2 separate regions of the Homo sapiens genome follow, and region 2 is linked to region 1. Evidence: fine-mapped expression QTL. A gene starts in region 1. The other region holds a variant in brackets. All regions are shown on one strand. Distances are from middle to middle.

Region 1 (3,000 bases):
GGATACTCTCAATCTCGTGATCCACCTGCCTTGGCCTCCCAAAGTGCTGGGATTACAGGCGTGAGCCAGCACGTCCAACCCTGGCCTGGCTTCTTGAGTGGCCCCTTTTTCCACCCCAAAACCTCCTACACATCCCTGAAAGTCCTGTCCAGGTGCCACTCCTCTGTGAAGCCCTTCCTGAGAACCCGCAGCCGTCTCTGGCATCACATGCTTCTCTCTCGCACACACTGGCTGCATGGCGGGTGTTCAGGCTGTCAGTGGGGAAAGGACTTGCGCCCCCGTCAGCAACATCAGGGCCCCCACCTGAGGTGGCTTCACGAAGTCGGCCACATCCCACAGCCGGTTTCCAAGCTCCTTGATCTGAGTGACGGAAACCCCTTTGAGTTTGGTGATGATGGAAAACTGGGGTTCCAGGTCCCGCTCCTGGTAGCCTTTTTTGGCGAGGAGAGCCCACCTGGGGAGGAGAAGTCGGGCAGTGTGGTGTGTCCCCAGCGTGTAGTGACAGGGGCGGAGCTGAGCCCTACATGCTCAGTTCTCCCCCCACACCCTACAGGCTCCCGGCCCAACATCGAAGGCCCCACCTCCTCTCTGGCCCCACTTCCCACTCCAGACCCCCTGAATGAGACAGAAGCTCCAGCCATGCATCAGAGAGCCAATGCCCTCAGACAATCACCTTCACTAGCCAGCACCCACCCCCAGCCTGACTAGATCCAGCTTCCCCCTTACAGACTCTCCTGACCCGAGATACAGCTGGTGGTCTCTCTGGGGGCCTAGTGCTCCAGCTCTCACAGATGTTAAGGACTATGTCATGTGCCCCCTGGGTGGGGCCTGGGTGGGGGCCTGGGAAGGAGGCAAGTGGACACACAGGACAAACACACAGCTTGTTCTTGCTCTCCTGTCTTGTATCGCCTAGCTCTCCCCAACCCCGTCCCAATCTGCCCCCTTCCACTCCAGCCCCTAAACAGCCCAACCCTCAACTTCAACCCAGCAGGACCAAGCCCCACCCCCCACCTCTTCCCTTGCCCCTCCAGCCTGGCCAAAAGCTCTTCTCTCTTACCCTACCACATAGACCACGATCCCAAACTGCAGCAGCCTCTGCAGGGCGCCCACCCGCCAGTTCCTGGTCATCACATACTTCTCCGTCTTATAATCCAGAAGCCCCCAGCCTGTCGTAGCCCCTGGGGAGCCCATGCTGCCAGCTCCTGCTAGCTGCGGGCACATGAGTCAGCATGGCAGCTGCAGCCGCAGCTGAACAGGAGGCAAAGCAGGGCCCGAGCCAGGCCAGGCCAGTTGCTGTTAAAGGGACACTTCCACTAAAGCAGGATCCAGATCCAGCCTCCAACACCCAGCCCTCAACCCCTAATCCCAGCTGCCCTGCACCTCCCACCCTCCCTACATTCCCTTTGCTGGGCCCTGGCACACAGAGAACAGCAGCAGCTCTGTCCCTGCCCTCTGGCCTCACTTCCTGGGGTGGGAGTGGAGGTGGTGGGAGGGTGGAGACGGACAGCTGTTATCAGTGCTGTGAGAGGAGGGCCTGAGGGCAGCAGCAGCAGGGCGGGGAGGGTGTTGAGGAAAGCTTCCGGAAGAAGTGACCTCTAAGCTGACCCTTGCAGATTTCTGAAGTTCGACAAGCAGACAAAGATGGGGATGGAGGTTCCTGGTGCAGGGAGCAGCGTATGCAAAGACCAGAGCATGCAAGATAACTAAGAGGCACAGAGTGAGAGGGTGACCTGGCTCTGCGAAGTTCCCCAGGCCCTCCTGAAAAGCTGCCCCCGCCACCTTCCCCAGTGCAGTGAGGACAACACAAGTCCTGGAGTCAGGCGTGTTTCCCAGTCCACGAAAGGGGGGCGATGCTGGAACCCCCTAGGAAGGCAGGGAGGATGCCCACAAGGCGCCCAGCCCAGTGCATAGCCCGTGGCGCGTGCAGTTTATCCTCTCAGGCGAGGAGCCTCAGCGCAGGAGAGCCACGGTTTCTACGGCAACCTACAGCACTGGGTTGCCGGGGCGACCGCCGCGGGGGAGCGCGTCGCTAATTGCCGTGGCAGACGCCAGTCGATGGACGCCACACTCGATTGGTCAGCGCAGCCGCAGACTCCGCCCACATCCCCGGGTCGCGCTCTAAGTGAGGCGCCAAGCGGTCTCCGCCTCAGGGTCTGAGGCTGCGAAAGGGGCGTAACGATGAGCGGTTCCTGCCAGAGGTCTGGGGAGGATAAAAAGCAGGAGGAAGAGGCGACGGCGGCCTGTGGACGTCTTGCAGGGGTCCCCGAAGCCAAGCAGGGTCCCAAGGCCGATTCAGACTCCGACCTAGAGACGGAAGGTGCTCGGGGCAGGGGCCAGGCCCGTCTCCTCCCCTTGGGGGCTTCTCCCGCAGGGGTTGTGGGAGGTGGGCTGGCGCCGCCGAGGAGGCAGGAGACCTCTGTCCAGCAGGGCACGTAGCCCTCTGCGGGGCGTCTCCAGCCCCCTGCCCTCTCCTCGGCGCTCCTGGCGGCATCAGGAACTTTACCATGAGAAGGCGCTTCTAGAAGGAGGTTAAAATGGAAAATCCCGCCAGACAGTGCACCAAAGGCTGTCCCGCCCTGAAATGCAATCAGAGCTGGGTTTTCCCAATCCACAGGTAAAACTAATATAATGGATGTATAGAATTTAGAACTACTTCCGGTTTTTTCCCTGGGGAAAATATTCACAAAACATTTGTGGTCTGCAATCAGGTTAAAAGACATAGTGTGCCATTTGTCATCAGACAGGTAGAGGCCTGACTCTGGCAGGATTAGCTACCACTAGCTGTGAGACTTTATGTATTCATTTATTAGAGCCAGGGTCTTGCTCTGTCACCCAGCTTTCAGTGCAGTGGCAGGATCATAGCTCACTGCATCCTTGAACTCTGCACTCTGGTGAGCCTCCTGCCTCAGCCTCCTGAGTCGCTGAGACTACAGGGGGCTACCACATCTGGCTAATTTAAATAATTTTTTATCTCGCTATGTTGCCCAGGTTGTCCAGCTT
Region 2 (2,601 bases), 20 kb after region 1:
GCCCACCCTCCCCTCCTGTCCAGCCCCCACCCACCTGGAGCGGGCGGCCAGGATAGCCTTGTGGGCTGGCCGTGGGTGCCCGTCAAGCAACAGAGTGATGTCACAGAATTCCGCGCCCGCTCCCTCCAGGTATGCCTTCATGTCCTGGATCAGAGATGTGCCTGGGGGTAGGAGGGTCCCTGAGCAGGTACAGCCTGGGATTCTGGCCTTGGGGCCCCACGGCACTACCTTCCTGCATATCTGCCCATGTTGCTGCCCTGAACAAAACTTCACCCAGGCAGAAGGCCTCACTCGCCCTGAGGTACCATCAGCCACATTCTGTCCTCCCTCGGCGCCCTGGCCGACTCAAGCACTATGCCCCACGCACAGCCCACCACCCAGCGTCTCATCTTCCACCCAGCTTGCTGTACCCCCTCGCTGACCTCATGATCAAGCCCCCTCCAGGCCCACTGCATGGCCTCTGGTGCCTGCAGACATCACCAAGAGCCAGCAACCGGGGTCAGCACAAGCCCCAGGGAGAGCTGGGGGAATGAAGGGGCCTGTGACATTACAAGCAAAGAGAAGTCCAGAGACTGATCACCGTGACCCTGGGCCATCAGACCTGACATCCTAGCCCGAAAGAGGTGCCCCATGTCCACCCCCAGAAATTGGCTCAGGAAATCCCAGGTCACCAGGACACAGCCCACTGTGGCAAGCCCCATGGGTCGGGGGCTTCTGCCTTCATCTGTTTCCTCCCTGTACCCAGGAGAGCACTCTGGGGTCCCATGGCACCCACCCCCACCCCGAGGGCCTGGCAGGTGCTCTCCATGGCTCCCAATCTCCTACCGCAGATGAACACCATCCCTCCCAGCCCCCAGGGAAGGGGAACGGGGCTCCCTACCAATGTCCACTGGCTGGTCCAAGGGAGTGCGAGGGGGCGGCTGCTGCTTCCGCCGCACAATCTCCACTATCAGTGGAGAGGAGAGGCGCTCGAACTCCTTCATCATGATCACCTGGTTGAAGTGGGACTCCTTTACCACGAAGTTCAGGCAGTGCTCCTGGGGCAGACAGGCACAGGCAGGCAGGCAGAGTCAAGCCAGGGCCCCAGGCTGGGCGAGGGGCTCACAGTGGTGGGCAGGGAGGGGGCCTAAGCCTGAGCACACCCCACCCAACCCTGATTGCGCTGACCCCACCCCACACCTTGAGTTGGCTCAGCTGCAGCCGGGCGGCACTCTCGCACACAACCAGCACGTTCTGCAGGTCCACGGAGGCCTCGATGTACTGGCGGCACAGCTGCTCCAG[G/A]CGGCACAACTGGAAGCTCAGTGCCAGTTTGTACACATCCATGATGAGCAGCACATCCTCCACATGGCCTGCGCCCCAGAGCCCCCGAATCTCAGGGAGCCGGAGAGGGGAGGGCAGGGCACAGGGCGCAGGGCTCCCCCCATGGAAGAGTGTGGGCTGGGGCCACTAGGTAGGAACAAGGCCTCGGGGGACTCAGATGGCGTCCAGCTGCAGTGATCATGGGTAAGGAGGGTGACCTGCAGCCTCTGAGCCTCAGGGGGCCCATCAGTAAGGCAGGGCTGGCAGCACCCACCTTTTGGCTCTGCTGCCCGCACCCCAGCCCACACCAACCCTGCTCCACCCCCACCCAGGCGGACCTTTCCGTGGGTATTTGATCTTGTCGGTGTAGAGGAACTGCATGAGCACCTCGAAGGGCCGGGCCTCGGCCTCCCGGATGGCCACGTGCAGCAGGGGCGGCCGGGCCCCACCAGCAGCCACGCCGGGGGCCTCCCTGGGAACTGGGGCGGCCTCCTGCTCCAGCTTCTGTGGGGAGAAGGGAGCTCAAGGACACCCCAGTGGACACCAGGCATGGCTGCCAGGTCAGGGCAGGGCGGTTAGGCACCTCACCTGGGCCAGCCTCTCCCGCGCCTGCGTGATCTTCCTGCGAAGCCAGCGGCTCCGCGCTGTGACAATGGCTACGTGGCCCTGCACGCACTCCTCCTTCTGCACAAAGAATGATGCACTGGCAGAGGGCACAGGACCCTCGCCCCAGAGAACAGAGACCCAGCCAGCCAAGGTCAGCACCACCAGGCCAGCAGCTGTTTTTCTGAGGGGCGAAATTCCCACTGCCCAGGCACAGCAGGCAGAGCAGGGTGCGAGGACAGGCACCCACCTCACCCAGCACGAACTCCACGTCGCAGAACTGGCGGCTCTCCCACAGCCGCCCGTAGTCCTCGTGCAGCGTGCATTTAGGGTAACAGGAGAACTGCAAGAGGGGCCCAGTGAGACTAGATGTTGCAGACAGCAGGGTGGCCCCAGTGTGGCTGTGCAGGCCGACCCTGAGGTCCCCACCTGGCCCATGCTGACCCTCAGGGCCCAGGAGGCAGGTGGGCCTGGCTGAGGAGAGGAAGCAGCCGCTACCCCACCCTGAAAATACAGCCTGGCTCCAGCCTCAGCACCTGCAACTGTCCACGGCCGGCTCCACAGCAGGAAAGGGCTCCCCTGCCTCTCTTGCCTTCGGCTGGGCCCCAGGCCTCAGCAGAGCTCTGCCGTCTCCACTCTGCCTGGACCTGCGTCCTCACACTGGCCCCCACCAGCACATCCCAACCTCCTCCAGGAAGC

What was found. PIP is the estimated chance that this variant, and not a neighbour inherited with it, causes the effect. A credible set is the group of variants that fine-mapping cannot tell apart.
Region 2: its variant is the best candidate, but not a certain one, in a credible set for the expression of P2RX6 in gastroesophageal junction (GTEx, PIP 0.81).

Annotation. Positions count from the first base shown.
Region 1 is chr22:21,013,396-21,016,395 of GRCh38, reverse strand. P2RX6 (purinergic receptor P2X 6) reads right to left here and starts at 1,231. Exons shown (of 12, transcript NM_005446.5): 1 at 1,058-1,231; 2 at 304-454. The coding sequence starts at 1,221. It also overlaps the pseudogene TUBA3FP. RefSeq lists an enhancer at 2,202-2,351.
Region 2 is chr22:20,993,306-20,995,906 of GRCh38, reverse strand. LZTR1 (leucine zipper like post translational regulator 1) reads right to left here. Exons shown (of 21, transcript NM_006767.4): 12 at 2,153-2,245; 13 at 1,888-1,983; 14 at 1,638-1,803; 15 at 1,180-1,349; 16 at 881-1,037; 17 at 35-161. Among named protein-coding and RNA genes, the nearest start is that of THAP7-AS1, 7.3 kb to the left of the region's middle. The variant G/A (reference allele first, on the strand shown) is at 1,282.